Regions from separate parts of the Homo sapiens genome. Here region 2 is linked to region 1. Evidence: fine-mapped expression QTL. A gene starts in region 1. The other region holds a variant in brackets. All regions are shown on one strand. Distances are between the middles of the regions. Region 1 holds the start of AP1G1 (adaptor related protein complex 1 subunit gamma 1). Region 2 overlaps AP1G1 (adaptor related protein complex 1 subunit gamma 1).

Region 1 (16,084 bases):
GCTGGAGTGCAGTGGCGTGATCTCAGCTCACTGCAACCTCCACCTCCCTGTTCAAGCAATCCTCCCACCTGAGCCTCCTAAGTAGCTGGGAATGCAGGTGCACATCACCATGCCCGGCTAACTTTTGTATTTTTAGTACAGACGGGATTTCATCATGTTGACCAGGCTAGTATCAAACTCCTGACCTCAAGTGATCCGCCTGCCTCGGCCTCCCAAAGTGCTGGGATTACAGGCATGAACCACTGCACCAGCCTGCTCTCTTAAGTTTAAAATTGCTTGTGGGCAAGGCATGGTGGCACACACCTTTAATACCAGCACTTTGGGAGACAGAGGTGGGAGGACCTCTTGAGCCCAGGAATTTGAAACCAGCCTGGGCAACATGGCGAATCCCCGTCTCCACAAAAAAATAATAAATCAGGCGGCACATGCCTACAGTCCCAGCTACTTAGGAGGCTGAAGTGGGAGGATCACTTGAACCTGGGAGGAGGTCGAGGCTGCAGTGAGCTGAGATTGCACCACTGCACTCCAGCCTGGGTGAAAGAGTGAGAACCTGTCTCAATCAATCAATCAATAAAAATAAAATTGCTTGTTACTTATAAGCTGAGAGGAGTTGAAAAAAAATTGTTTGCTACTTTCAACATTATTCTGCATTAGAAACTGAGTAAAAGCAACAGAGAATAAAGAAAGCCAAAATCAAGAACCGAAAACAGACTGAACGCAGTGGCTCCTCCTGCCTGTAATCCCAGCACTTTGGGAGGCCAAGGTGGGTGGATCACTTGAGCTCAGGAGTTCGAGACCAGCCTAGCCAACATGGTGAAACCCCGCCTCTACTAAAAATACAAAAATTAGCTGGGCATGGTGGCGCACGCTTGTAATCCCAGCTACTCGGGAGGCTGAGGCAGCAGAAATCACTGGAATCCAGGAGGTGGAGGTTGCACAGTGAGCCGAGATCGAGCCACTGCACTCCAGCCTGGGAGACAGAGTAAGACTTTGTCTCAAAAAACAAACAAAAAAGAACTGAAAACAATTCATAAAGCAAGGACAGACTAAATTACAAACACCTAAAACAGTATTTTTAAATGTTCTGAAGCTCTAAGTAAGAGTTTTAAAGTTTTGATAGCAATTAAGTCCTGCTATATACACAAAATTTTAAAATCCTCATCAAATGCAAATAAGGGGATTAAGCATTGTGGAAAATCTGTTTTGGTATGTAGATTGCCAATTCAATTTTTTTAATTAAAAATAATATCTTGGAAAATACTCATTCAACTTTTTAAATTTGTATAAATTAAAAGTTTTGGCCAGGTGAGGTGGCTCACACCTGTAATCTCAGCACTTTGCGAGGCCGAGGCAAGAGGATTGCTTGAGCCCAGCCTGGGCAACATGACAAAACACTATCTATACAAAAAATACAAAAATTAGCCCTGCGTGGTAGCACACGCCTGTAGTCCCAGCTACGTGGAGGGCTGAGGCAGGAGGATCGCTTGAGTCCAGGAGGTCCAGGCTGCAGTGAGCTGAGACCACTGCACTCCAGCCTGGGCAACAGAGTGAGACCCTGTCTCAAACAATAAAAATAATAAAAAAAAAAAAAAAGAGTTTTTATAAATCATAAAGAAGTTGGTTTTGTTTGCATACCACTGATTTTTAAAACTCCTTTTTTAAATAAACACTGGGGTGAAATATCACCAAGGCATTCCTGGCAAATTCTGTACTTTAAAGTTTCACTCTAAAATCTGCCCTCAAATCTAGAACTGCTATCAATGACAGAGGTCAGACCAAAGAACAAGCAACTGCCCCCAAAAGAAAACGGAGGTTTCCTAAACGCAAAGCAGACATTCAAATATGCACTGATCAATGGTGCACTAAACAACACTTTGCTAGGAATTTGTTAAGGCAAAAGGACCCTTTCTACAGTGAATGCAAACTATCTAAGAATGAATTTTTAAAAGTTTAATATTTTTAAATATTTTGGTAGAGACGGAGTCTCATTAGGTTGCCCAGGCTGGCCTCCAACTCCTGGGCTCAAGGGATCCACCTTCCACCTCCCAAAGTGTTGGGATTACAAGCATGAGCCACTGAGCGCCCGCCTGAATGACATTTAAATACCAATATATTAAAGCATGAAAAACACTGAGTTAACTAACATCTATGTGATAGCTCTTCTAACACCTTACTTGAAAAGTCTAAGTCAGAAATGGAACATTTCAGTAGTAACTGCGAGGGCATACTTACTAAATGAGTGAGCATTACATAGGTGTTCAGTGTTTGACAGTTCCTTTAAACCAAAAGAGAAAATTCCATTGCTTCAGGGTAATACAGAACTCACGTATCTAATAGTAACTAATATATTTTTGAAAAATCTGCTTAAATAACAAGATCACTGAGTATTTAAACTGAAAATATTGTTTTCTTCTGAGACATCATATGACCTATAGAGGAATTTATCTACAATCTCATTTCAATAACCTGATAATAATAATGCATCTATAAGTGGCTTAGCAATATTAAAAAGCTTGACTCAATTCAAGTTATAAATTTAAACTTCAACCACTAGACTGTGATCTCAAATAAGTTAATTTCTCTTTTGCAGATGTGAAAACCCAGGCTGAGATGAAATAAGGGTGATTCAATCACACTCGCCTAACTTGAAACGTAGGAAATGTATCAGTGAATAACTGTGAAATACTTTTTGCCAGGCACGGTGGCTCACGCCTGTAATCCTAGCACTTTGGGAGGCCGAGGCGGGCGGATTACCTGAGCTCAGGAGTTCGAGATCTGCCTGGGCAACATGATGAAACCCCATCTCTACTAAAATACAACAACAAAAAATTAGCCGGGCGTGGCGGCGTGTGCCTGTAGTCCCAGCTACTTGGGAGGCTGAGGCAGGAGAACTGCTTGAACCCGGGAGGCGTAGGTTGCAGTGAGCCGAGACCGTGCCACTGCACTCCAGCCTGGAGACAGAGGGAGACTTCGTCTCAAAAAATAAATAAATAAAAATAAAGACATACTTTTTATTCAAGCATGCTAGACTGCAAACATGCCTTTAGAATAAAAGTGACGAGATTACGAGTACTTAGAGGGTTCATATTTTTCAAACGTGAAAGTTAGGGTGTGTGACAAGTTAGGTATTTGACAAGTATTCTAGGGAACGGTGGAAGTGAATATTTAAAATTCAGCTATCCCCAGAAAAACCCAATACATGAAATCATTACAAGTATTTTTTAGAATCAGTCAGCAAAGATCATTACTGTACAAACACTTCAAAGTTAAGGTCACTAAGAAAGCACTAACTCCTCCCTTCTGTTAACTAATCACTGTAAAGCAGCCCAACTCTCCTTTCTACCTACCTCAGATTAATATTTTTCTCCATGGACAGATTTCCGTGCTCAGGGATATATAATAGGGGAGAAAAAAAAATACCACACAAGTGTCAGTAAGCACCAAAAAGCTAAGTATTCAGCACAGGGAGGGAATCCACATATGAGAAAACATTTGACAGCTCTTGCCTCCCAAAAGCCATTTAATCTGCTTCATAAACATAATCTGCTTCATAAACATTACCCTGAGCGAGTGGTTCGATGGATCTCCTACACCGAGTCCTAACCGGGAAACACAATCAACCGAACCGTCCCGACTCTTTCAGGCAATCAGGAAGACCGGGAGAATTATTAGACGCTGACGTCCGCAGGGCCAGGAGCTGAGAAAAGGGTAAACAGTATACTCGCAGGTAGGTTGAAAAAAACAAAACAACAACATATACACACACACACGAAAAATTGGGAAAGAAGTTGGTCGGAAGGTTAGAGAGAGGCGAGGCCGATGTCCGGTTCCGAGAGGACGGCACTGCAGGGGCAGGCAGCGATTAACTGGGCATTTGGATATGCTGGGAGTTATCTGACAGACCTGACACGGGTACAAGACACAAGAACGCTGATACGTGGCTCAGAGAAGACACGCGGGGGTGGGGCCCGCCCCGCTAAACCCCAGGCTCCCTGAATGAGCCCTCAAAGATCGCAGCCTGAGAAAGTCAAGGGTTCAAGGAGGCCCGTACCGGCGGGGCAACGCCACAACACGGAACGCCGCGGCGCGCGGAACCTCCCGGTCCGAGGCCTCGGGGTCGGCCCTCCAGAAGTCGGAGCAGCCCCTGGGGCTCCCGGCCTCTCCTGGCCCAGCTTCTCTGTCTTCTCTTCTCAACACCCACAGCCTGGGACTGGACCCCTGAAACTGAAAGGAAGCTTCCGGTCGAGCGCCCGCGGCAGCGGCGGGGCAAAAGCAGCAATATGCTCTCAGCGCCGGGAGTGACACTCACCGGCCCGAAACCTCGAATGAAACCAGCAGCTCCGGGGGCGGCGGCAGCAGTGGCAGCAGGAACCGAACATCCAAAATGGCGGCTCCCTCGGCCTCACCACCGCTACCGCAGGCGGAGGGATCCTGAGGAAGGAGGGAGTTTTTAACTAACTTCACACACTATTGAGGAAACTTCGCTCCCTGTCCTCCTCTCCTGGTCGTTTCCGTGTCCTCGTACTGCAACTTATCGTGCCTTTTCTCTCGAATTATCCAAGAACTCGGACCCTGCCGAGGACTATTTGCCAAGGAGGAGGCGACTGCTCCTGGCAGAGCGACGCAAACGTAGCAAGGATCGGGGCTGTCACTGATGACGCGAGACGCTGCTGCCGAGTCACCGCTGCGATGAGTCTGAGCGAGAAAGATCCGGCCTACCCCGTAGCGGACGGACATTGGTTCCGCTTGGTGAGGGGGTAGGGGGGTGGGGGGTAGGGGGGTGGGGGGGTAGGGGGGGTGGAGCTGGGCTACCAGGAAGCGGTGGAGCCACCTGGAGGGGGCGGAGCTAAGTCAGGTAGCCCAGGAAGTGAGAGCAAGCGAGACAGGTGGGGGCGGAGAAGACAGCAGGGCTGAAAAGGTCTTCGTCCACGGGAATCCCGAACTCTTTGCTGTCTCCTTTAAGATTTTTGCTTTCTTTATAACTTAAGGAGCATGCTCCAGGTGGTATTCTATGGTTTTATGGTGTCTTTGCAACATATTTTATGAAGAGTTAAGAGGATGACTGAAAAGAATGGATTCCACGCCCGGTACCGCGGTGCTTGCACTGCTCAAGTCACTTAAACTCTCCAGGGATTCAATTTCCTCATATGTAGAAAGAAGACTTGGACTCATGTTAGCTGAAACCCTTACAGAATGGGCTTTCGGTCTATGACTCCATGAATTAATAACCAGGGCCAAAGAAAGTCTAACCAGACAGTTCCTAACCTGATAAATAATTACTAACATATGACGTGAGTCTTTTCCATGTGAATGTAAAGAGGGCCTGATATCTTGGCCTGTTTAAAGGAAAGGTGACCTACCTAGACTAAAATCCTTCTGCTAGATTGGCAACAAAGTACAATACAACACAGCAGCAGGCTGGGTGCCAAAGAGAACAGAACCAACCACACAAAAAAAATTTTTTTTTTTTTTTTGAGACAAAGTCTCGCTCTGTTGCCCAGGCTGGAGTGCAGTGGCGGGATCCCGGCTCACTACAACCTTGCCTCCCGGGGTCAAGCAATTTCTCGTGCTTCAGCCTCGCAAGTAGCTGGGATTACAGGCTCCCGCCACCACGGCCGTCTAATATTTGCATTTTTAGTAGAGAGAGGGTTTCGCCATGTTGGCCAGGCTGGTCTTGAACTCCTGACCTCAGGTGATCTGCCTGCGTCGGCCTCCCAAAGTGTGGAGATGACAGGTGTGAGCCACCGGCCTGGCCAGAACTAACCACAAATCTTGAGTTTAGGATTTGGGTGTCATAGAGAGAAGGTTGCACTTTTTTCCTTAGTCATTTTCATGCAGGGATTTCAAAACACTTAACAAAAATTGCTCTAAGTAGGCCGGGCACAGTGGCTGACGCATGTAATCCCAGTACTTTAGGAGGCCGGGGTGGGCGGATCACCTGAGGTCAGGAGTTCGAGACCAGACTGGCCAACATGGTGAAACTCCATCTCCACTAAAAATACAAAATTAGCCGGGCATGGTGGTGGGCACCTGTAATCCCAGCTACTCGGAAGGCTGAGACAGGAGAATCGCTTGAACCTGGGAGGCAGAGGTTGCAGATAGCCGAGTCTGGGCGACAGAGTGAGACCCTGTCTCACAAAAACAAAAAAAAATTGAACCAAGTAGGCCCATCTGTACAATTTTGTCCCTGAACTACTGGGGCATGCCAAGTGGCTGGAAAGAAAGGAGGCCATGGGTGCGATAATAATTATCATTTGTATTATTAAATATTGATATCACATTGTTCATAAGGCACTTTCATGTGTATAATCTAATCTGACCCTCTGGACAACCTCCTGAGTCAGGCTAGGCAAGCATAAGTAACTTAGTTTTACAAATAAGGAAAAAGAGGCTCCAAGAAACTAACTTGGCTAAAAGACACATCCTCTCCCCTCCTCCACTGGGGTTCTGCTACAGAGCTATAGAGTGCCTTTTTTTTTGAGACAGAGTTTCACTCTTGTTGCCCGAGCTGGAGTGCAATGGCGTGATCTTGGCTCACTGCAGCCTCCGCCTCCCAGGTTCAAGTGATTGTCCTGCCTCAGTCTCCCAAGTAGCTGGGACTACAGGCGCATGCCACCACGCCCAGCTAATTTTTTGTATTTTTAGTAGAAACGGGGTTTCACCATGTTACCCAAGCTGGTCTCGAACTCCTGACCTCAGGTGATTCACCCACCTCGGCCTCCCAAAGTGCTGGGATTACAGGCATGAGCCACCATGCCAGGCCAGAGTGCCATTTTATAAATTAGCATAGGGTACCACAATCTTCCACCACCCCTACCTACCCACCCACCTACCTACCTACCTACCTACACACATACCTACACTCTCAGGGTGGATGGAGTCAACCCCCAACAAGTGGTTTAGAGAACAGAATGTTTACAGAATTCAGATCCTCTGCCATGCTGCTACTGTACAGTGCAACCATGGACTACAAGGCTAGTAAATAGTGGAATGAAGCCAAAACACAATTTCCTCTGAGGTATAGCTATGCAGGGAACACAGGCCAAACTTAGTTTGGGGTTTCCACATAAGTAAGAAGTTTGCAGGTTGCAAAGCAGAGTTAGCTAAAGTATTCCGTTTGGAACACCACAAAAAAATGCTTAGAGGTCAAATTTAAATGTGTATCATTGTGAACCACAAAAGAAAAATTAAGCCAGCTACCTAAGGAGGAGAGAGCTTTTTTTTTTTTTGAGACGGAGTCTCACTCTGTCCCCAGGCTGGAGTGCAGTGGCACGATCTCAACTCACTGCAAACTCCGCCTCCTGAGTTCACGCCATTCTGCTGCCTCAGCCTCCAGAGCAGCTGGGACTACAGGCGCCCGCCACCACACCTGGCTAGTTTTTTGTGTTTTTAGTAGAGACGAGGTTTCACATGTTAGCCAGGATGGTCTTGATCTCCTGACCTCGTGATCCGCCCGCCTTGGCCTCCCAAAGTACTGGGATTACAGGCGTGAGCCACCGCTCCCGGCCCCGGAAAGATCTTTTTTCCTACCATATCGAGTGCAGAGCGTTAAAGAGTTTTAAACATTAAAAACTAAACCCTTTCTCAGTACTTTTTAACTTACATTTCTCTTTATTTTGTTTTTGTTTTTGAGACAGAGTCTCTGTCGCCAGGCCGGAGTGCAGTGGCATGATCTCAGCTTGCTGCAACCTCCACCTCCCGAGTTCAAGTGGTTCTCCTGCCTCAGCCTCCCGAGTAGCTGGGACTACAGGCACGTGCCACTACATCCGGCTAATTTTTGTATTTTTAGTACAGACGGGGTTTCATCATGTTGGCCAGGCTGGTCTTGATCTCTTGACCTTATGATCTGCCCGCCTCAGCCTCCCAAAGTGCTGGGATTACAGACGTGAGCCACCGCGCCCAGGCCATTTATCTTTATTTATAATTACCAAACCCTTCTTCCATGCAACTAAAATTAAAAGCAGTTGCCCCAGCTGGGCACAGTGGCTCACACCTGTAATCCTAGCACTTCGGGGGGCCAAGGTGGGAGGATCACTTGATCCAAGGAGTTTGAGAACAGCCCAGGTAACATAGTGAGACCCTATCTTTCTTCCTTCCTTCCTTCCTCCCTTCCTCCCCCCTCCCCGCCCCTCTTTCTTTCTTTCTTTCTTTCACGGAGTTTCACTCTTGTTGCCCAGGCTGGAGTGCAATGGCACAATCTCGGCTCACTGCAGCCTCCACCTCCCGGGTTCAAGCAATTCTCCTGCCTCAGCCTCCTGAGTAGCTGGGATTACAGGCATGCGCCACCACGCCCAGCTAATTTTGTATATTTTAGTAGAGACAGGGTTTCTCCATGTTGGCCAGGCTGGTCTCGAACTCCTGGCTTCAGGTGATCCACCTGCCTCGGCCTCCCAAAGGGCTGAGATTACAGGCATGAGCCACCATGCCCGGCCTCCTCATCTTTTAAATAAATGAATAAAATAAATAAATAAAAGCAATTGCCCCAATATGTAGCATAGTCACATTATCTTGGAATCTTTGGTTTCCATGGCTAGTGATTTAAGTTTAGAAAGGCTTACTCCCCATCTTCTCAAACATAATCCCTAATTCCAGATAAATAAATTACAGCACATCTATAAAAGGTAATACTATGCTACCAATAAAATGAAAACCTTATTATTATAGTATGGCAGACTTTAAAAGGAAATATTATAAAACAATGTTATAAAATGAGCTTGCAAAGTGTATATTGAGCCACCTCAGGCTCCTGAGTAGCTGGGACTACAGGTGCATACCACCATGCCCGCCTAATTTTTTTAAAAATTTTTTGTAGAGACACGGTTTTGCCATGTTACCCAAGCTGGTCTGGAACTCATGGGCTCATGCGATCCTCCCACTTTGCCCTCCCAAAGTGCTGGAATTACAGGCGTGAGGCACTGCCATTGGCCAAAGATTATTATTTTTATGGGTTTGTTTACTACTGATAACTTACATGCATAGAAAAAAATTGAAGGACAAAACTAAAATTTAAAAATGGCTTTTTTGGGCCGGGCGCAGTGGCTCACACCTGTAATCCCAGCACTTTGGGAGGCCAAGGCAGGCAGATCATGAGGTCAGGAGATCAAGACCATCCTGGCTAACATGGTGCAACCCCGTCTCTACTAAAAATACAAAAAATTAGCCGGGTGTGGTGGTGGGCGCCTGTAGTCCCAGCTACTCGGGAGGCTGAGGCACGAGAATGGTGTGAACCCAGGAGGCGGAGCTTGCAGTGAGCAGAGATTGCACCACTGCACTCCAGCCTGGGGGACAGAGCGAGACTCCGTCTTAAACAAAACAAACAACAACAAAAAAATGGCTTTTTTGGATGATGGGATTACAGATAATTTTTACTTTATTATATTATATTATATTTTGTTTTTGCAACGAGCACACCATTCTTTTAGTTAAAAAGAAAATTCTTATAAGAAAATGCAGTTTTATGGATTTTTGTTTTTATTTTATTTATTTATTATTTTGAGACAGAGTCTTGCTCTGTTGCCCAGGCTGGAGTACAGTGGCGTGATCTCAGCTCACTGCAACCTCTGCCTGCCAGGTTCAAGAGATTGTCATGCCTCAGCCTCTCGAGTAGCTGGGATTACAGGTGCCTGCCACCACACTCAGCTAATTTGTGTATTTTTAGTAGAGATGGGGTTTCACCATGTTGGCCAGGCTGGTCTGGAACTCCTGACCTCAGGTGATCTGCCCACCTTCACCTCCTAAAGTGCTGGTATTACCGTGCCTGGCCAATTTTTGTTTTTAAAACAACAATATCCTGAAAGTGTTAAACAAACTTAGTAAGAGATAATAACTAGGAAAAAAATTTTGGTTTTTTTTTTTTTGAGACAAGGTGTTGCTCTGTTGCCCAGGCTGGGGTGCAGTGGCACAATCACAGCTCACTGCAGCCTCGACTTCCCGAGCTCAAGTGATCCTCCCACCTCAGCCGGGACTACAGGTGCATACCACCATACCCAGCTAATTTTTTTTTTTTTTTTGTAGAGACGGGGTTTTGCTATGTTAGCCAAGCTGGTCTGGAATTCTTGGGCTCAAGTGATCCTCCCACCTCACCCTCCCCAAGTGCTGGAATTACAGGCATGAGCCACTGTGCTTGGCCAAAGATTATTATTTTTATGGTTTTGTTTACTACCGAGGACTGCTTCAATTTAACAATGAATAGGCCGGGCACGGTGGCTCACACCTGTAATCCCAACATGATTACTTTGGGAGGCTGAGGCAGGCAGATCACCTGAGGTCAGGAGTTCAAAACCAGCCTTCCCAACATGGCAAAACCCCATCTCTACTAAAAATACAAAAATTAGCCAGGCATGGTGGCGTACACCTGTAATCCCAGCTACTCGGGAGGCTGAGGCAGGAAAATCACTTGAAAATCACAGAAGTCGCAGTTAGCCAAGATCGCGCCACTGCACTCCAGCCTGGGCGATAGAGCAAGACTCCATCTCGAAAATAAATAAGTAAATAATAATAATAACAACAATTTAACAAAGAACAACAACAAAAAATAAAACTGAAGAAACATTGGCTAGCAGACAGACCACTTAGATGCCAGTCTTGGCTAGGTTTAATTCATTTTTTGCCCAGAGCAAGGTGTTAAACATCTCTGAGCCTGTTTACTCAGCTTTCCAATATTTATTTGTCTTGCCTGTTCCAAAATGGATTTAGAGTGGCTTGTTATGCAAAAGGGATCAGCTACATGAAAGCACTTTGAAAAGCCTGAAGCATCATAAGAATGTAAATACTGAAATTTTTGTGCCGCCTCATCATTCAACTAAAGCATTTACTGACTGCCCTTTATAAGTAACAGTAGTACAGTGTGTCTTACATTTACAAAAGTATTTTCAGGCTGGGCGCAGTGGCTCATGCCTGTAATCCCAGCACTTTGGGAGGCCAAGGTGGGTGGATCACTTGAGGTCAGGAGTTCGAGACCAGCCTGGCCAACATGGTGAAACCTTGTCTCTACTAAAAACACAAAAATTAGCCGGGCATGGTGGCACGCACCAGTAATCCCAGCTACTCAGGAGGCTGAGGCAGGAGAATTGCTTGAACCCATGAGACAGAGGTTGCAGTGAGCCAAGATCGCGCCACTGCATTCCATCCTAGGTGACAAAGTGAGATGCTGTCTCAAAAAAAAAAAAATTAATTAGTTGGACATCATGGCATGTGCCTGTAGTCCCAGCTACTCAGAAGGCTAAGGCAGGATTTTTTGACACCAGAAAGGTAAGGCTGCAGTGAGCAATGATTGCACCACTGCACTCCAGTCTGAGTGGCAGAATAGGACTCTGTCTCAAAAAATATATTAAAAAAAGAAAGAGTGAGAGAGAGAGAGAAACAAAAGGAGGAGGGGAGGGGAGGAGAGGCTCAGAGAGATTAAATGATCGGTCACACTTTCATACAGTAGAGGCCAGACTCAAATGTAGTCCTTCCATCTCTGGATTTGTCTTCTAGCCCATATAGTAATCATTCAAACAGGCTACCTGATTATTTCCCCTATGCCACACTGTCCTGGGTGCACCAGAATCTGTAATAGACATAACAAAAGAGACTGCCCCTATCCTTCAGATAATTACAATCTCATTGAGGAAAACGAGATTTTTTAAAAATCCAAAAATATAAAATAAGCCAGTGATATCATTCAGCAGATAAGTCCTAGTTCAGAAAGAGAAGAAAACGGAGAGGTCGCTGAAGTTCTAGTTCAGAAGGAGCAGAAGAAGGAGAGGTTGCTGGGAGCTAGAGCAGTGAAAGATGGCTTTTGGAATACATAGTATCTGGTGGAATCTGGGGTACTAGAGGGGAACTGTCTTGTTTGGGCTTAGGATGCAGTGAGTTTCTTTCTTTCTTTTTTTTTTTTTTTTTTTTTGGAGACAAAAAAAAAAGGGTCTCGCTATGTTGCCCAGGCTGGAGTGCAGTGACACAATCTCGGCTGACTGCAACCTCCACCTCCTGGATTCAAGTGATTCTCCTGCCTCAGCCTCCTGAGTAGCTAGGACTACAGGGGTATGCCACTGCACCCAGCTAATTTTTGTATTTTTAGTAGAGATGGGGTTTCATCATGTTGGCCAGGCTGGTCTCGAACTCCTGACCTCGTGATCCTCCCACCTCAGCCTCCCAAAGTGCTAGGATTACAGACTTGAGCCACCTCATCCGGCACAGTGAGTTTCTTAAATGATTCGGTCAGTATCAGCAGCTGAAGCCCATGTGACCTTTAGAGCAGATGGGGAAAGCTCTCTCTGAAGAAATGCAGTTAGCATCTTTCACAAAGAACCCTTCCTGCCTCTCCACGTGCCAGAGATCTCAGCCGAGAAAGGAGAGTGAAGAGGGGCACAGCCGTGTAAGAAATACAATGACGTGAGTCAAAGAGGCGGCTCCACTGGCCTGTTTTGTTATCCTTTGAGTCACACGAATCTATAAATAAGACTGAAAGACAGAGAGAAATTAGTCTGTCTGCTGTTTCTGTAATGTTTTCACAAAAAGCATTTTCACAATTCTTTTAAAGCACAGTCCCTAATCACGATGTATGCTGGCCTGAGACAAGAGTTTAGGAATTCATCTTTAACTTATGACAAAAGCCAGAAAGGATGTAAAAATTAAAATTCCAACAGCCAACTCCATACACTCTTTGACCTCTTACCAAGAGCATTAGGAATTCTGCTATATGTAGAAGAGTAAAGACCAAAGCCCGGAGGACATTAGCTTCTGCCAACCTTCTTCTTTGTTTCAGAATTTTTTTTTTTTAAAGAGGCAGCCCTAGGCCGGGCGCGGTGGCTCGTGTCTGTAATCCAGCACTTTGGGAAGCCAAGGCAGGTGGATCACCTGAGGTCAGGAGTTCAAGACCAGCCTGGCCCACATGGCGAAACCCTGTCTCTTCTAAAAATACAAAAATTAGCCAGGCGTGGTTGCAGGCACCGGTAATCCCAGCTACTTGGGAGGCTGAGCCAGGATAATCACCTGAAACCGGGAGGTGGAGGTTGCAGTGAGCCGAGACTGTACCACTGCACTCCAGCCTGGGCAATAGAGTGAGACTCCATCTCAAAAAAAAAAAAAAAAAAAAAAAGAGGCAGCCCAAAGTGCCACCTGAGATGCTTTATGTTACAATATTTTCTTTTTCTTAGAGTAGTTTTTCTTGACTTGTAAATTATTCTGTATTATTTTGGCACTTTTGGAGGGAAAAACTTTACCAGGTATGAGACTGCAATCAACTTAAATTCCAAATTGAGGAAATGGTGCCATTCTCCTGTTAGGAATGACAAAATTAAGGTCACTAGAAGAGAATGCACCATCTAGAAACAAAGCAGGATTTCTGACCCATTGTTTTCTACTCAAGTAATTTTATTTCCTTAATATGGACACCATTAAGCCAGGAGCAGTGGCTCATACATGTAGTACCAGCTACTCAGGAGGATGAGGCAGGAAAAACCCTTGAGCCCAGGAGTTTGAGACCAGCTAGGACAGCATAGTGAAACCTCATCTCGAAAATATGTATAAATGTGGGCACCGTCATTTGTCTAGAAAAATCTATAGTAAATTGTTTTGTTTTCCTTTCATTGCAAAGTCTCATACTTGTTCTTCCAAAATCAGTTCTATGAGTTGCTTTAAAATTAGCCTGGGACGTCCAAGAAGTGTTAAGACATCTGCAGTAACTGGGGCAGCCAGTCCCTGGAGGCCAACTCAGGGAACAACAAACTCCTTCGCCAAGCCGTCCACACATGCCAGCTGATGGTCTAGGACCCAAGTATGTGCCAAGAGTGAGGTGTCTTACTTCTAAGGAGAGGCAAGCAGTTTGCTATGCAAGCGGGTCGCTGGCCCTGGACCTAAAGATCTTCTCTCTAACTCCATATTCTTTAAATAAACTTGTCTTTTATGAGGAGTGGAAAATCTTAGAATGAAGCATTCAAAATGAAACTGATTTTTTTTTTTTTTTTTTTTTTTTTTTGAGATGGAGTCTCGCTCTGGCACACAGGCTGGAGTGCAGTGTTGCAATCTCGGCTCACTGCAACCTCTGCCTCCCGGGTTCAAGCTATTCTCCTGTCTCAGCCTCCTGAGTAGCTGGGATTACAGGCGCGTGCCACCACGCCTGGCTAATTTTTTTGTATTTTTAGTAGAGACAGGGTTTCACCATGTTGGTCAGGCTGGTCTCCAACTCCTGTCCTCCTGATCCGCCCGCCATGGCCTCCCAAAATGCTGGGATTACAGGCGTGAGCCACCGCGCCCGGCCCCAAACCGGGTTTTTAAAGAGTCATTGGTTTATAGGTATCACCTTCTCATATGCAAAAGGAGGAATGTAAACTCCCCCGGATATGTAAAAGAGAATTCTGAACCAAAAATTTTGCATAACCAATAATTACATCTAAAAATTAATTTGGCTTTTGGGTATGAGCCTAAAACGAAACTTAAAAATAAAGTATATTGAAAAGAAAAATGGGGCCGGGCGCGGTGGCTCATACCCCTAATCCCAGCACTTTGGGAGGCCAAGGCGGGTGGATCACAAGGTCAGGAGATCAACACCATCCTGGCTAACACGGTGAAACCCCGTCTCCACTAAAAATGCAAAAAAAAAATTAGCCGGGCGTGGTGGCGGGTGCCTGTAGTCCCAGCTACTCGGGAGGCTGAGGCAGGAGAATGGTGTGAACCCGGGAGGCGGAACTTGCAGTGAGCGGAGATCGCGCACCATTGCACTCCAGCCTGGGGTACAGAGGGAGACTCCGTCTCAAAAAAAAAAAGAAAAAGAAAAAGGAAAAATGGGCCAGGTGTGGTGGCTCATGCCAATAATCCTAACACTTCGGGAGGCTGAGGTGGGAGGATTGCTTGAGTCCAGGAGTTCAAGACCAGCCTGGGCAACATGGCGAAACCCTGTCTCTACAAAAAATACTAAAGAAGCCAGGCGTGGTGGCTTATGCCTGTAATCCCAGCACTTTGGGAGGCTGAGGTGGGCAGATCACCTGAGGTCAGGAGTTCGAGACCAGCCTGGCCAACATGGTGAAACCCTGTCTCTACTAAAAATACAAAAATTAGCCAGGCGTGGTGGTGCATGCCTGTAATCCCAGTTACTCGGGAGGCTGAGGCAGGAGAATCGGTTGAACTCGGGAGGCAGAGGCTGCAGTGAGCAGAGATCGTGCCATTACACTCCAGCCTGGGCAACAAGAGTGAAACTCCGTCTCAAAAAAAAAAAAAAAAAAGTCCAGATGCAGTGGCTCACGCCTGTAATCCATCACTTTGGGAGGCTGAGGAGGGCAGATCACGAGGTCAGAAGATTGAGACCATCCTGGCTAACACGGTGAAACCCCGTCTCTACTAAAAATACAAAAAATTAGCCAGGCGTGTTGGCATGCACCTGTAGTCCCAGCTACTTGGGAGGCTGAGGCAGGAGAATCTCCTGAATCTGGGAGTCAGAAGTTGCAGTGAGCCGAGATAGTGCCACTGCACTCCAGCCTGGGCGACAGAGCGAGATTCCATCTCGAAAGGAAGAAAGAAAGACAGAGAGAGAGAGAGAGAGAGAGAGAGAGAGAGAGAGAGAGGAAGGAAGGAAAGAAGGAAGGAAGGGAGGGAGGGAGGAAATTAACCAGGTGTGTTGATGCCTGCCTGTAGTCCCAGCTACTCAGGAGGCTGAGATGGGAGGATCACCTGAGCTGGGGGAGGTAAAGACTGCAGTGAGCAGTGATCAAGCCACTGTACTCCAGCCTGGGCGACAGAGTAAGACCCTGTCTCAAAAAATAAAAAATAAAAACAAACAAAAGCTAGTTACGCAAGAAACCAAAAAATAATAATATTTTGGCCTTCTTTTCTAGCCTCTCCAGTCTCACAGAATCACTAACATTTAGTCCACTAGAAGATAAGAAATAATGGAAACTAATATTTGTTGCGCACATACTAAGTGCTAAAGAAATTTATATATATTATTTATTTTTTCTTTTCTTTTTTTCTTGAAAGGGAGTTTCACTTCATTGCCCAGACGGGAATGCAATGTCATAATCATGGCTCACTGCAGCTTCAACCTCCTGGGATCAAGCCATCCTCCCACGTTAGCCTCCGAAGTAGCTAGGAATACAGGCGTGCA
Region 2 (16,084 bases), 74 kb before region 1:
AGAAATTGAAACATTTCTCCATTTAGCTGCAAGGCCAAGTGAGAGGAAAACTAATTCTGATCCTAGAAACTAAGGCACGCTGAAGCTTTCAAAGATCCAATCATTTGAAACAGTCTTCACAACCATCAGTATCCTAGGCAGTTATTTGGCTGCTAGTCCTTCAGTATGGTGCTTGTGTTCTGATTCCAAAATCAATTCATATTCTACGCAGCACCCTTTGTGTTAAGGCCATGATATTTTACTCCTTCTAGACAAAGCTATGAATGATCATAAACTCTACCTCGAAACTATGATCACCCAAGGAAATGCTCTGTCAGCAGAGTAGACCCTTCCCAGCTCCATTAGCTGACAGTGTCTTATAGCATGGTCTTGAACAGATTTCTTCAGAGATTCAACCCAGTTCAAATAAAAAAACCTGAGCTGGTTAGCTACAAATATAAGAGAGAAAATAAAGCCTCTACACAAAGAGGAATGTTAAGACAAATTCTATTCAAGAAATCCACCAACATTATGTTAATCCTATCATGTTTCACAGCATTAAGTATCCATCCAATGAAATCAGTCTGCAAAGAAACCCTTAAAGGCTATTTTTCATTGCACAGGCAGAGCAGTTGTCTGAAATATGCACTAGTCCACACTTACATTACTGAAAACTATGCAGGAGATATTATCCTGTTCTTGACTCAGTCAACCATTTACCCAGTGGAGTAAGTTTTAGCAGATCTTGCTCATACACACTAGTAAGACCAGAAACTTTCCCGTGGAGCCTTTAGTTCAACTCCAGTTTGTCAAATGTTAGGAATATTCCAGCATCTGATACAGAGCTAGATTTGACAAGACACTGAAGATTTTAAGTAAAGGCTTGGTGAAATGAAGGGGAAAAAAAGGGATATTTGTTTCCAGGTTTAAGATTGAAGCCATAGTAGTCATTATACTGTATTCAATACAGTAACAATTGCAAACATTGTAAGAGCAAGGTGGGCCTCACTTTTTCTTTCTTCAGTATATAAGACATGGCGCCTGAATACTTGAACATACATAGTACATTCAATGTGTACCACAGAGAGAGTCACCTCTACTTCATTCCAGCAACTCAATTTCAAAGTTTGATAACATATGGGTCCTTTCTAAAAAGCACTTGGCACTCTCACTAGTTTAAAAAGCTCAAGTCTTTGATGTGAATATTCATGAGATTCGTCTTTTAAAAGAGACCAATTTCTCAGACTGAGGAAAGGCTATTCCTACCCTATGGTGTCCGTAAGACCTCCTCTGACATAGGGGTATGGAAGCTACAAGGCTTCACTCCAACACCATAAAGTACAATATGGAAAGATTTCTTTAACCGTGTGGTCTTTATTTCAGTGCCAGTGTTACAGATACAACACAAATGTTCCAGTTAGAAGGAATTCAAACGGAATGCCAAGGTCCAAGCCAGGCTCAAGAAATAAAAAGGGAGGTTTGGAGTAATAGATAAGATGACTCCAATACTCACTCTTCCTAAGGGCAAAGGTACTTTTGATACAGAGTCTGATCTTTGAAACTGGTGAACTCCTCTTCCACCCATTACCATAGTTCAAACAGGCAAGTTATGGGCTTAGGAGCACTTTAAAATTTGTGGTGGGAATAGGGTCATTAATAACTATGAATATATCTTTTAGAAGGTGACCATTTTGCACTTTAAAGGGAATCAATTTTGAAAATCATGGAGACTATTCATGACTACAGCTAAAGAATGGCGAGAAAGGGGAGCTGGAAGAGCCTTGGAAGTTTCTATTACAAATAGAGCACCATATCCTTCATGCCAAATCTCAACAAAAGCTCTTTTTAACTCCATCTGTCCAGTGTTTACAAATAAACTCGCAAGGTCTGACCAGTTCTTGGTAACAAACATACATGTGTGTGTCTGTGTGTATACAGCAATGCACAGAAAAGGCTACCAGGAGCCTAATGCCTCTTTCAAACATTGGGGGAACCAGTAGAAAAAGGCAGGGCTCCCTAATGTCCATTATTACATTTCCATTCCGAATGCCAGATGTTAAAAGTGCCTGAAGATGGTAACCCAGCTAGTGAGGAATAAATACCCCACCTTGCCCAGTCCACAGAGAAACAACAGTAGAAAGAAGGGGCAACTCTTTGCTGCAGAGACAAAGTGAGTGTTTTTTCGCCATGGATTGCAGTCCTCTCCTCCAGACCAGCTGCTTATTTCCTCAGGGGCCCAGGGAATGTTGATTCTGGCTGTAAATGTGGGAGGGGTGGAGAAGTGCGGAAAAAGGAGAAGAGGAAGAGTGCAAAGTAGCCTCCAGAAGCAGCCAGCCTCAACAGTGGAGGAGAGGACATTAGTCTTTAACAATGCTTCAAGGTCAGCAGTAACTTTAGGAAAATCCTCCTCAGCAGTTCTCTTCAGCTCCTCATGCCCGTGGTACAGTTGGGGGGGACTTGCCAGCAATCACAACCTCCTTCCCAGAGTTCCTTTGATTGAGTGGGATAAAGAATGAGAATGGTGCCAAACCCTCATTGCCAGGACTGAGGGGGAAAGTTGTTCACCTCTGCTAGATCTTGCATTGCTGAGCCCTTGTGATTATATGTAAGCTTGATCCGCATTCGCAGCTGTTGCTATAAGAGGAAAAGAGAAGTGCAAATTATATACTGAAATGAAATCTCCAGAATCTGTCCGGTCCACAAATAGACTTTTAATCTTAGAGGTCAAAACTTAAAGCAAAGCTGTCTGTTAAGAATGACAGGTAAACAACAACAAAAAACACCCAGTACTCTAGGCTTGAGCCAAGAAGCTAACAATGTCATGCCACCAAGTTGAGAAAGCGCATCTGCAGAATACACGGTTAGCTTTAATCCTTGAACTGCATTAAAAGGACAGAACTCCTTGGGAGCATTTTTTCTTTTCTTTTCTTTTGAAACAGGGTTTTGTTCTTATTGCCCAGGCTGGAGTGCAGTGGCACAATCTTGGCTCACCGCCACACCAGACTAATATTTTTATTTTTAGTAGAGACGGGGTTTCACCATGTTGGCCAGGCTGGTCTTCAACTCCTGACCTCAGATAATACACCCACCTCAGCCTCCTAAAATGCTGGCATTACAGGCGTGAGCCACCATGGAGCATTCTCCTAGTAACATTTTGCTGAGTCCTTTTCAAAAAGATTCAAACCTTGTATCCAAGTCTCTTAAAAAATGAGGTGAACATATACTCATCGTACGCTCTCCATTCAGATACACTGTTGCTTTATCTGAAAAACCTACAGTAAATGTGAACATGACCTTTTGTTCCTAAAGCATAAAATTTTAAAAAATGACTTAACTCACAGGTAACAGCAGTAGTTTTAAGAGAACTCAATTAGACACTTTTTGTATGGCAGATTTCAAATACAAATGCACTAAGACATTTTTTACTCTCTGTATCAGATGGTCAAAGGAGTTTGTGCTTGTACTATAGAGGCCGATGCTCAAAATATAGTGAATAGCAGAGGAAAGGCAAGTGTTACAAGAGAAAGAAAGTATACTGTTACTTATGAGCAACTAGTAGAGCTCTATTAAAGAAATTCTCTGAACCATTTTCAAAAACTGAAAACCAACTGATTACTATTAAGGTGAGCTTATTTCTTTGAGAAGAGATAATAAAAATATTGCTTAATTTCAGTTTCTAAAGCTATTTTTCATTTGGCTGCTTCATTTAAAATGCCTCTATTTTTCTATTCATACTTAATAACTGTAGCAGTAAATGTAGGTATTTGGTTTCAACAAATGCTCTTACCTCAGATTTCAACTTGTGTATAAATTAAAATGTCTAAGCTTCTCCCCTACCCCCAAAAACCAGACCTTTAATCTAGCTTTTTTTGAAGTTGCATTTTAATAAGATGCCACTAAGCCACCTGATGTCTCTGGGTTCCATTTGTTATTTACAAAAGAGCAAGGAAGTTAGACCAGGCATTTTCATTGATCTCTTCTCTAACTATGAGTCAGAAAAACCTAAAGAAACAAAGCAGAATTTTATTTCGGGAAATATGCTTACACTTCGGCTCAGATATTGGCTACAAATGTGCTACTCACCTTCTGAGGGTTCAGAACTTTAATGACTTGTGTGATGGTCCCCGTGTTAAATGCTGGGACAATGCTGCTGCTAGGAGACAAGAGCTGCAGCTGGAATGTCTAGGGGGGAACAAAGGGCACTCTTCAGAAAAAGAATTACACAACGCTAGGTCAGAGATACCAAAAACCATTTAGACACCCAGATGATGGGTCAAGCAACAGATTTCACTACTACTAAGTTTTGCCTACTACTTGTTTTCTAGATATCAGGAATTCACAGCACGTGAGTTGACTCCCTGTGGTATTTGTAAAAATCCACTGTTCGGTTCTTTGATCATGACAACTAGTAATAAACCACATTCTCCTTTCTGGCAGAAGGAATTCTAGCCTACCTCTTTTCAAAAGCTGACCAATTCTTCTTCTGGCAACTTCACTTAATGGTAACTGATCAACTATGCAAGTAAAATATCGGTGCTTTTGGCTTAAAAAACAGCCAGAAAGAAATGAAAAGAAAAGCTTCCCAAAAATAGCAAACCAACATACTGGTCACCAACTATAAGCTTTTAGGCTTTTGTGTGATTGGATAACTGGGATGCAGAGACTTGAACTTTTGTTTTTTAAAGCCTGCATAATCTATAATGTGTCAGAGCCTCCTCTCCACATGACAGAAGGAACGGAAAGACTTGCAGAACCAGCCTATACAGCAAAAGACCTAGATAAGCCAAACAGTATTAATTTGTTGAATGCTGGTGGGGTTTATTTGCTTGCTTATAGAAATAAGAGTTGAAAGTGCTGGCTGGGTGTGGTGGCTCAAGCCTGTAATCCCAGCACTTTGGGAGGTCAAGGCGAGCGGATCACGAGGTCAGGAGTTCGAGACCAGCCTGGCCAACACAGTGAAACCCCGTCTCTACTAAAAATACAAAAATTAGCTGGGCATGGTGGCACATGCCTGTAGTCCCAGCTACTCGGGAGGCTGAGGCAGGAGAATCGCTTGAACCCAGGAGGTTGTGGTGAGCCGAGACTGTGCCACTGCACTCCAGCCTGGGCAACAGAGCAAGACTCCGTCTCAAAAAAAAAAAAAAAGTGCTATATAGGGCAAGCTAGGTAAACCATACTGTACTACGTAGCTATTGTATGAACTAGCATTTGAAAATCTTTCCTAAAAGTAGATTAAACTTCTAAAATATTTGAGAGAGAGAGACACTAGTCTTCTCTAGGGCCAAAAGTTGCAAGAGTGAAGATTCACTCTCAATGTACAGATATATTACACTGGGGGCTGGGCACGGTATTCCCAGCACTTTGGGAGGCCAAGGCGGGCAGATCACCTGAGGTCAGGAGATCTAGATTAGTCTGGTCAACATGGCAAAACCCCATCTCTACTAAAAATACAAAAATTAGCTGGGTATGGTGGCGCATGCCTGTAATCCCAGCTACTCAGGAGGCTGAGGCAAGAGATTTGCTTGAACCCAGGAGGCAGAGGTTGCCTGGGTGACAGAGTGAGACTCCATCTCAAAAAAAAAAAAAAAAAAAATATATATATATATATATATATATATATATGGTCTTATTCATAATTCTGCCACATTAAAATTATGTAAGCTAAAGTATTATTCATTACTACCATATTTCATTAAATGTAAGATACCAATCGTAATTCACACCATTATTTTATGTACCACTGAGATAGAAAACATGCTGCCCACTGAATTATGACAAGATACCAATTTTTAAATGTATCCTAATTTTAGAAACATTAAAACACGAAATTAGTACATAGTAGAACCTATAAAATATGACTTTTTTTTTTTTTTTAGATGGAGTCTCGCTCTGTCGCCCAGGCTGGAGTGCAGTGGTGCGATCTCGGCTCACTGCAAGCTCCATCTCCCAGGTTCATGCCATTCTCCTGCCTCAGCCTCCTGAGTAGCTGGGACTACAGGCGCCCGCCACCACGCCCGGCTAATTTATTATTTATTTATTTATTTATTTATTTATTTATTTATTTATTTATTTATTTTTTGAGACGAGTCTCGCTCTGTTGCCCAGGCTGGAGTCCAGTGGGGTGATCTCGGCTCACTGCAAGCTCCACCTCCCGGGCTCACGCCATTCTCCCGCCTCAGCCTCCCAAGTAGCTGACACTACAGGCGCCCGCCACCACGCCCGGCTAATTTTTTTTTTTTTTTTTTTTTTAGTAGAGACGGGGTTTCACCGTGTTAGCCAGGATGGTCTCAATCTCCTGACCTCGTGGGATCCGCCTGCCTCGGCCTCCCAAAGTGCTGGGATTACAGGCGTGAGCCACCGCGCCCAGCAAAATATGACATTTTAAGTTGAAAATACATTATCATGTTGCACTGTACAGTACACCACCAAAAATGTCATGTTTTAATAGCAGAAGTGATAAGTCACTAGAGCAGCAGCCTAAAGTAACAAGTATAAAACCTAAGTTGAAGAAACTAAATATACTGAGCACTGAACAGATGAAAAGTGCTTCAAACAGTGCCTGATTCAAAAAACTTATTTATTCCTTTAAGCAACCTTAGGAAGTGGCTATCATTATCACCACCCTCTTTGCAAATGAAGACACTGAGGCATAGAGGTTCAGTGACTTTCTTCATGTCATACAACTACTACTAAAATCCAAACAGAATGGCTCTAGAGTTCATTAGTGGTCTTTCACCAATTGACACTACTGCTCCCCTTTTTTTTCTTCTTTTTTTTGGACAGCGTCTCACTCTATCACCCAGGCTAAAGTGCAGTGGCATGATCTTGGCTAACTGCAACTTCCACCTCCTGGGTTCAAGTGAGTCTCCCACCTCAGCCTCCTGAGTAGCTGGGACCACAGGCACGCACCATTGCACCTGGCTAATTTTTTGTATTTTTGGTAAAGATGGTGTTTCACCATGTTGCTGAGGCTGGTCTCAAACTCCTGAGCTCAAGCGATCCACCCGCCTCAGCCTCCCAAATTGCTGGGATTACAGGCGTGAGATACCGTGTCCAGCTAACTGCTTCTTAAACATCTAAATTATTCTGGCTCCTACAAAGTGTAAGCAAAGAGGGTTGCATGAGAGTCAGAGGATGGGGAAAAAATAAAAAAAGACTGCAAAGTCAGCAGTACCCACAAACAAAGAAAACATCCTCAATTTCCAAGTCCAAGTGTGTTGTCGGAATGTCTAAATGCCATATTTCACATGCCACTGCCAAGATTAGGTTAGCTTAGTCTAAACCAGTGGTTGGCAAACTATGGCCCACTGGCCAAGAATCGCCCAACATCTGATTTTGCAAATAACATTTTATTGGAACAGAACTATGTTCATTCATTTACATGTCATCTACAGCTGTTTCTGTACTATAAGAGCAGAACTGAGTACCAATAAAGACCAGATAGCAGCCTAAAATACTTACTGTCTCATCTTTTTAAGAAAAACTACCCACTCCTCATTCTCAACTTTTCTTTATTTAGAACTCTTTGTTTGTTTGTTTTGAGATGGAGTCTCGCTCTGTCACCCAGGCTGGAGTGCAGTGGCATAATCTGAGCTCACTGCATCCTCAGCCTCCTGGGTTCAAGCAATTCTCCTGCCTCATCAGCCTCCCGAGTAACTGGGATTAGAGGAACCTGCCATCACGCCCGGCTAATTTTTTTTTTTTTTTGTACTTTTAGTAGAGACGGGAGTTTCACCATGTTGGCCAGGTTCTCGAACTCCTGATCTCAAGTGATCTGCCTGCCTCAGCCTCCCAAAGTACTGGGATTACAGCCGTGAGCCACTGCACCCGGCCTCAAGATTTTTCACTATTCATAAATGAACATAAATATCCTTAAACTAAAATTTGGTGTAAACCAAACCTTGATTCACAAAAACAGTTACTGTATCTATAATAAATTGGATGTTAACGAAGGAGGAATGTTTCTCTCATTTATGTATCAAGAGAGAAAAAATTTCAATTCTGATCTGGTTAACTAGAAGATAATACCAGATAGACAAAGTCTCTCATCTTACTTAACTTTAATCCTATGCCATATTTTATGTTTTTAGGTCTTTAACACTGTATTACTAAAGCCTAACCTATCCTCAATGCCCTGAGCATTAACTGATCACCTCGTAGAATTCTGCTCTCACTACTATTAGAATTGTTTTTCTTTATCCTACAATGCTAACCATCAGAATACTTGTAACCTAGTAAAAATTATTCACTAAAAATGATATGCTTCCATGAACCATAAGCTACATTATTGTTAGTTTGAATTAAGTCTACAAATTTAATCTGTAAACATTAAAACATATCCTTTACCAAACACATGAAAAAAAAAA[G/A]CCAGCCAATCTTTAATCAAAGGAAACATCTAAAGAAGACATTGTAGTACCTTTGGTACTGCAGCTTGGAAAACAAAGTCCGTCATATCTAGCTCTGTGCTGTTGGAGGCCTGTATCGTTATCACTGTTACACTGGGGTTGGTATTTGACCGTTCAAAGGTGAATTCTATCTTCAAGCCATTCTTACTGTATGCTGTGATGGAGGGGATGCCTGAGAAAGTACAGGAAGATAAGTCTTATTGTAGTCAGCCTAATGCTTGCAGAATTATTACTTCTTTTTCTTAATAACCACATCTCATTACTCAGTGCTCCATGTAATGATGGTAACAACAGTCATCGTACCTGCAGCAATATCATTGAAGAGAGGCTGTGATGAAAGCCCATCCAACAAGAAGGGGGGCTGGGATATCTGTGGGACTGAGGCAGGGGCAGGAGCAGCAGCTGGAGCACCTAAAGGAAATATTTTAATGGAAAGTTAACCTTAGGCAGCATGACAAAGCTTACCAAGAAATTATAGGGAAAATTATTTCGGTCTCAGGTTAAGGAAAGATTCCTTAAACAAGATGCAAAAAGCATAGACCACAAAGAGAAAGAACTAAAAACTCAAGTACTTTAAAACGAGCAACTTCTGTTTATTAAAAAATACTGTAAGAAAAAGTACAGTCTGAGCAACATGGCGAGACCCTGTCTCTACAAAAAAAAATACAAAAATTAGCCAGGCATGGTGGTGTGCGCCTGTAGTCCCAGCTACTTGGGAGACTGCAGTGGGAGGATCACTGGAGCCTGGAAAGTTGAGGCTACAGTGAGCTTGCACCACTGTACTCCAGCCTGGGGGACAGAGCGAGACTCTGTCGCAAAAAAAAAAAAAAAAGTAAAGAGAGAGAGCCCACAGACAGGAGAAAATGTTTGCTATACAGTAATGAATGGATAAGTATCCAAACGATAACTGTCTTCTATAAAACCAATAAGAAACAGATAACCCAATTTAAAAGTGTCAAGATATAAAAACACGCAAGTCACAAAAGAGGAAACCTGAATGAAAAGGGAATCTTACAAACAGATGCTCAATTTTACCAGTAATGATGGAAGTGGAATTTAAAATTATAGTGAGATACTACCTCATGTCTACCAGAATGGTGAAAATTTCGATGTCTGATAATTCCAGATGTTGGCAAGAAGATGGAACGATGGGAAATTTTAAGCTCTGCTATAGGAAGGTAAACTGGCACAACCAATCTAGAGAGTAATTTGGCAACAGTAGAGTTGAACATCAGTATATCCTTAAACTGAGGTTTCTCAACCTTGACAGTAATAGCTTTTAGGCTTCCTAATTCTTTGTTGTAGGGGGCTGCCTTGTTTATTGTAGGATATTAAGTAGCACCCCTGGGCTTTTATGCATTAGACGGTAGCATCCTCCCAGTTGTAACAACCAAAAATATCTTCAGACACTGCCAACCCCTGGAGGGCAAAATCTTCCCCAGTTGAGAACCGATTACCCCTTCTTAGGAATGCTTTTAATTAATCCTTGCATGTGTTCACTGGGAGATACATCCAAAAGCATTCATAGCAGGAACACTCCTAATGGTGAAATACTGGAAACAACCAAAATGTCTGTCATCTTGATAATGAATAAGTAAACTGATATATTGATATACTAAAATACTACACATGTACAACAGTAAAAAGTGAATTCACTAGAAATACACTTAACATGGATTATTCATAACTCATTCTCACAATTACAATGTTTAGCAAAAAAAGGTGCAAAAAAGAACACATTCAGTTGGATACCTTGTCTAAAAAGGTAAAAATTGGCAAAATAATACTACATACTATATCAAGAAATGCACAGGAATGGCAAACACCAATGTTAAACACTACTTTAGGATAGACAGTAGTTACGTCTGGAATCAAAAAGAAATGGGATGAGAGGGAAATACACAAAGAACATCAACCCTCTTAATATTTTATTTTACAAACTAGGTAGATCAAAACATTCATTAAATTTTGTAGATGTTAAATGCTGTATAATAAAATTTTCACACACACACACGCACCCTGTGAGGGGTGGTATAAAGTGGGGTGGGAAAAAGAAATAGATTACCATTCTTATTTAATCTTTCCAAATAAGAACAACTTGACAATCATACAATAGAAGATAATTCATAGAACATGAGGGATATCAAGATTCGAAGAAGAAGCATAAGGAAATTCAGTAAAATTAAGAGAATGTATTTAATATTTAAATAGATTTCAAACTACTTGTGAAATTAACTGAAAATATGCCATTTAAAAAAGAACTATCACAATGAAATAAAGGAAGGCTAGAATATCATCTTTTTTTAAGAAATTGACAGCAAGAATGAGGGGGAAAAAAGATACTAAAGAATACTAGAAAAGTAAATGACAGGCTGGGCGCGATGGCTCATGCCTGTAATCCCAGCACTTTGGGAGGTCGAGGCGGGTGGATCACCTGAGGTCAGGAGTTTGAGACCAGCCTGGCCAACACAGCGAAACCCTATCTCTACTAAAAATACAAAAATTAGCCGGGTGTGGTGGCACGCGCCTATAGTCCCAGCCACTCGGGAGGCTGAGGCAGGAGAATCGCTTGAATCTGGGAGGCAAAGGTTGCAGTGAGCCAAGATCACACCATTGCACTCCAGCCTGGGTGACAGAGCAAGACACCATCTCAAAAACAAAAACAAGTAAATGACATATTAAAAATTAGCAAAGAGAATAGAAATACGGATGGCTAAGCAAGCACGAGAAGCTAAAATAAATGCAAACACCATTTGTGCAGTCCAGCAGATTATCAATGAAGCAGACAAAGAAATATTCATACAGTTCTCCTAGTCTAAAAAATCAAATCGAGAAAATTTCCCCCAATTCCCATTTTCAAAACAATTTTAGAAATGTGTTCTCATGGAAAATCAGAGGCTACTCAAGATACAGGCAGCATATAGGTCCCCAACTCCCTCAAATTTTCACTTTTCTTTGTCCTGTAAAAGTATAGCAAGGTAGTTTAGGAGAAGAGCAGAAACTTACTGCTCCAAACCCTTTAAAAACACATGTTAAATCTATTCTGAATTTCTACTGACTTAAATTTCTATATAATGGGGTAAAACTGTAATGATAAATTAAGAAATCTAGAATTCAAAATTTTAAAACTTAATGTAAAAAGTGGAAAAACATCTTTAAAACACATTATGAATAAGGCAAGAAAACCCAGACTTTTTAACATTTTATCATTTTGCTTTAACATATAACACTAGGAAAACAAGACAGTAGGAACAAAAAGAAAAGACTCCACAATAAATGAGCTAAGGATACAGGAATGTTCAGAAAGGAACCTCATCTATAATACAAATATGTGAATAAATATTAAACATTCTCTGTGATCAAAAAATAATAGGGCCTCTCTCTGCTGACCAAGCCTGGCAGAGGGCTACAAAATTTAAAAAATAATAATAAAAATAAAATATAATAGGACCAAATTTTCACCCAATAGGGCTTTTTAAAATGATAATATACAATGCTTATGACTGTGCGGTTAAACATATAAATTGAGGAAAAGGTAAATAATATTTACCAAGTGCCTACTATGTATCATGCACTGAATAGGTCAATGGGCCTCACAAATATCTTATGGAGTAAGTATTAATCATCCTAATTTTAACCAGATTCAGAAAGACTAAGTCACTTAGTCTAACAAATTAATCTAAAATAAGAACAAATTGATGTAATATTTGTTGAGGCCGCTAGGTAAGAAAAATCTAGAAACAAAATACCCCATACTGGCTGGGTGCGGTGACTCATGCCTGTAATCCCAGCACTTTGGGAGGCCAAGGCGGGAGGATCATTTGAGGTCAGGAGTTCAAGACCAGCCTGGCCAACATGGTGAAACCCCATCTCTAATAAAAAAATACAAAAATTAGCTGGGCATGGTGGCACGTGCCTATAAATCCCAGCTACTCGGGAGGCTGAGGCAGGAGAATCACTTGAACCCGGGAGGCAGAGGTTGCAGTGAGCCGAGATCGTGCTGTTGCACTCCAGCCCGGGCAACAAAGCAAGATTCCGTTTCAAAAAAACCAAAAAAAAAAGCCAAACTACCCAATACTAACGAACTGAGTAAACAGAGCAAATTTGTTGATAAAGTATTAGTCACCTAAAATTATAATTATGAAGGCTATATATATTAACATGGAAATACTAACATATTAGGTGAAGTATATGCTATGGTTTAACTGTGGGGTTGTTTTTTCTTTGCCGGTTATCCAGTACAGCTTTGACATTTGAGGATTTGAAATTGACCATTTGTAAATGATTCATAAGTACATGACAAGTAACATTTTGAAATTTTGTTAAGACACAGACATAAATCCTATACTCTGTGACTCCACTGTATTAGGAAAAAAAAAAATCAGCCTGTGGGAATGAGCTTAGCTAACCATCCAACTTGTTATCCTATGTCTATTTTTTACTCAAGGTCATGTGTGCTTTAACTCTTCATTATCCTCTTAAAGAAGACAGCAAAACCCCGTCTCTACTAAAAATACAAAAAATTAGCCGGGCATGGTGGCATTCGCCTATAATCCCAGCTACTCAGGAGGCTGAGGCAGGAGGCTCACTTGAACGCAGGAGGCAGAGGTTGAAGTGAGCCGAGATAATCCCACTGCACTCCAGCCTGGCTGACAGAGTGAGACTCTGTCTCAAAAAAAAAAAAAAAAAGACACTTTAACCTTTCAGCTATACTTTACACTGAAATTTAGGATAGAAGTTGTAGGCCAGGCGTGGTGGCTCACACCTGTAATCCCAGCACTTTGGGAGGCTGAGGTGGGTGGATCACGAGGTCGGGACCAACCTGGCCTACATGGTGAAACCCTGTCTCTCCTAAAACTACAAAAATTAGCCAGGCGCAGTAGCAGGCGCCTGTAATCCCAGCTATTCAGGAGGCTGAGGCAGGAGACCTGCTTGAACCCAGGTTGCAGAGGCTGCAGTGAGCCGAGATCATGCTACTGCACTCCAGCCTGGGTGACAGAGTGAGACTCTGTCTCAAAAAAAAAAAAAAAAAGGCCAGGCGAAGTGGCTCACGCCTGTAATCCCAGCACTTTGGGAGGCCGAGGCAGGGGGATCATGAGGTCAGGAGTTCAGGACCAGCCTGACGAACATGGAGAAACCCCATCTCTACTAAAAATACGAAAATTAGCCAGGGCATGGTGGTGCGTGCCTGTGATCCCAGCTACTCAGGAGGCTGAGGCAGAAGAATCGCTTGAACCCGGGAGGCGGAGGTTGCAGTGAGTCGAGATCGTGCCACTGCACTCCAGCCTGTGCAACAGAGCAAGACTCCATCTCAAAATAAAAATAAAAGTTGTATTGGACTCGGGTTTATCATATTGCTGAACATGTCAATTACAAATGACTGGTATATATGAACAGAAGAAAAAATATTCCCAAATGAAAAGTTATGTTTGAATATTATGAGTGATTGCCCTTCAGTTGCTTTAATTACAGAAAGTGTGAAAGGGAAGAGGTAAGTAGCAGGTTAACATCTCTCCACAAATGGCCACAGCTACTGAAAACTAACCATTAGTGGGAAGGAACCAAGAAGAAGTCATGTCTTGGGACACTAAAAGCAAAGGTGATACGGGATATATTTTTTGAGCTTGAAAGAGAAAGTGTGTTTTTTTTTTTTTTTTTTTGGAGACAGAGTCTTGCTCTGTCACCCAGGCTGCAGTACACACTGGCGCGATCTCGGCTCACTGCAACCTCCGTCTCTCAGGTTCAAGCGATTCTCCTGCCTCAGCCTCCGGAGTAGCTGGGATTATAGGCATGCACCACTTCACCCGGCTAATTGTTGTATTTTTAGTAGAGATGGCGTTTCACCATGTTGGCCAGGCTGGTCTAGAACTCCTGACCTCAGGTGATCCACCTGCCTCTGCCTCCCAAAGTGCTGGGATTACAGGCATGAGCCACTGCGCCCAGCCAGGAAAAGTAGTTTCTATCTTAAAACACTATGAATAATTTATTCACCCAAAATTAGGAGTTTGCCTTTAAGAAATCCGTATAAATTATCTTTAGAGCATTATTAGTATACAACATATAACCCGGATATTGTGAAGATTTGACTCTTGCTTCTGATTTAGCCTCTCCCATCTTCAAATGATTCACGTGCTGGAAAGTCTGGGTTCAGTTTAGTTTTTCCCTGAGGCCTCTATCTTTTCCCAGGTATTAAATAGCTCCAGACTGCCTCACCTGTAAGGTTGATGTCTCCCAGCAAATCAAGAAGTTCTCCACCAGCAGAAGATGGTTTGCTTGTAGGCGCAGTTGGAATAACAGGTGTTATGTCATTTCCTCCCAACAAATCCAATAAATCATTGGCCTAAACAAGGTAACAACACCTCAATTCATTATTATTTGATTTGTCTAGTATACATCTAATGCAAAGCTCTTTCAATATGTAAAAATAAGGAAGGAAATCATCAACCAACCCAGGAACATTAAAGGGACTCAGCTAAGAGACAAGCTGTAAGGGACTATAAAATCGTAAGAAGCCCCAGATGAGCAAGTGAAAGGCTGGCTACCTGGCTGGTGGGCTGTGGCCCAGAGGGTGGCGGTTTGGTCTCTAGTGGAGCTGGTTCTGTCTCTCCATTTGTCTGCACAATCTCAGTAGGGCCATTTGTGGTCACTTTTTCCATGACAGGCATTCTCTCAAGTAGGGCAGACCTAGAAGAATCTGAAGTGGTTAAATTCTAGGCAGTTAACCTAGATTCCCTACCCAAAATAATCACCATTAACTATGTTGAGCCCAAGCATGGAGATCTATCTCCCCTCCCCATCCAACACACACACTAAAATAGAAGGTAGATTACAAGAATACATGACCTAAATTCCTGGCTGGATTAAGGGCAGACAAAAAAATCTTGAATAAACAGACTGCCCAGCTAAATCCCAAAGCATATATTTCAGTGGTAGAGAGACTGAGATGAAAGAAAGGTAAATCCATAGGTATTAACAGTCAAGAAGATACTGTATAATAGAAGAATAAAAGATGACCCAAACACTAGAATGTTAACAGTAAAAGAATTTGAATGAGATTATTTGTCTTGAAAAAATACAACTCCCACTTCTTTTTTTTTTGAGACAGAGTCTTGCTCTGTCGCCAGGCTGGAGTGCAGTGGCATGATCTTGGCTCACTGAAACATCCGCCTCCCAGGTTCAAATGATTCTCCTGCTTCAGCCTCTCGAGTAGCTGGGAATACAGGCATGCGCCACCATGCCCAACTAATTTTTTTGTATTTTTAGTAGAGACGGGGTTTCACCATGTTGGCCAGGATGGTCTCGATCTCTTGACCTCGTGATCTGCCCGCCTCGGCCTCCCAAAGTGCTGGGATTACAGGCGTGAGCCACCACGCCCGGCCTCCCACTTCTTAACTAAATAAAATAGAAAATAAAGCAAACTTTCCATATCAAAAAAAGTGTAAGTGTTGGAGGTGGAATGAAAGAGAGTTAATTTATTTCTTTAGAGACTAGGCAGAATAGAAGATGGACAAAACAGAAGCAGACAAGCAATTAGAACTAAATAGGGATACGAGGAACAATTAATAAAGCACAAGGAATGAATCTTCTTTATGGATTACCATGACAATTTAGTCAGGATGCTAAGAGATACACGCATTGCTTAGTTTCTTTCGCTCACCTCATGTGGTCATATTTCTTGAAAAGTGCATTATATTCTACTG

Evidence for each region. PIP is the estimated chance that this variant, and not a neighbour inherited with it, causes the effect. A credible set is the group of variants that fine-mapping cannot tell apart.
Region 2: its variant is the best candidate, but not a certain one, in a credible set for the expression of AP1G1 in whole blood (TOPMed, PIP 0.72).

What each region holds. Positions count from the first base shown.
Region 1 is chr16:71,804,454-71,820,537 of GRCh38, forward strand. AP1G1 (adaptor related protein complex 1 subunit gamma 1) reads right to left here and starts at 4,381. Exons shown (of 23, transcript NM_001128.6): 1 at 4,310-4,381. LOC124903714 (a long non-coding RNA gene) reads left to right here and starts at 4,505. Exons shown (of 2, transcript XR_007065110.1): 1 at 4,505-4,749; 2 at 13,609-13,905. RefSeq lists enhancers at 3,512-4,159, 4,103-4,792, 5,353-5,432, 13,845-13,894.
Region 2 is chr16:71,730,547-71,746,630 of GRCh38, forward strand. It overlaps AP1G1 (adaptor related protein complex 1 subunit gamma 1), which reads right to left. Exons shown (of 23, transcript NM_001128.6): 17 at 16,042-16,084; 18 at 14,927-15,068; 19 at 14,598-14,724; 20 at 8,688-8,795; 21 at 8,396-8,556; 22 at 4,063-4,161; 23 at 1-2,613. The coding sequence ends at 2,512. Among named protein-coding and RNA genes, the nearest start is that of PHLPP2, 14 kb to the left of the region's middle. The variant G/A (reference allele first, on the strand shown) is at 8,346.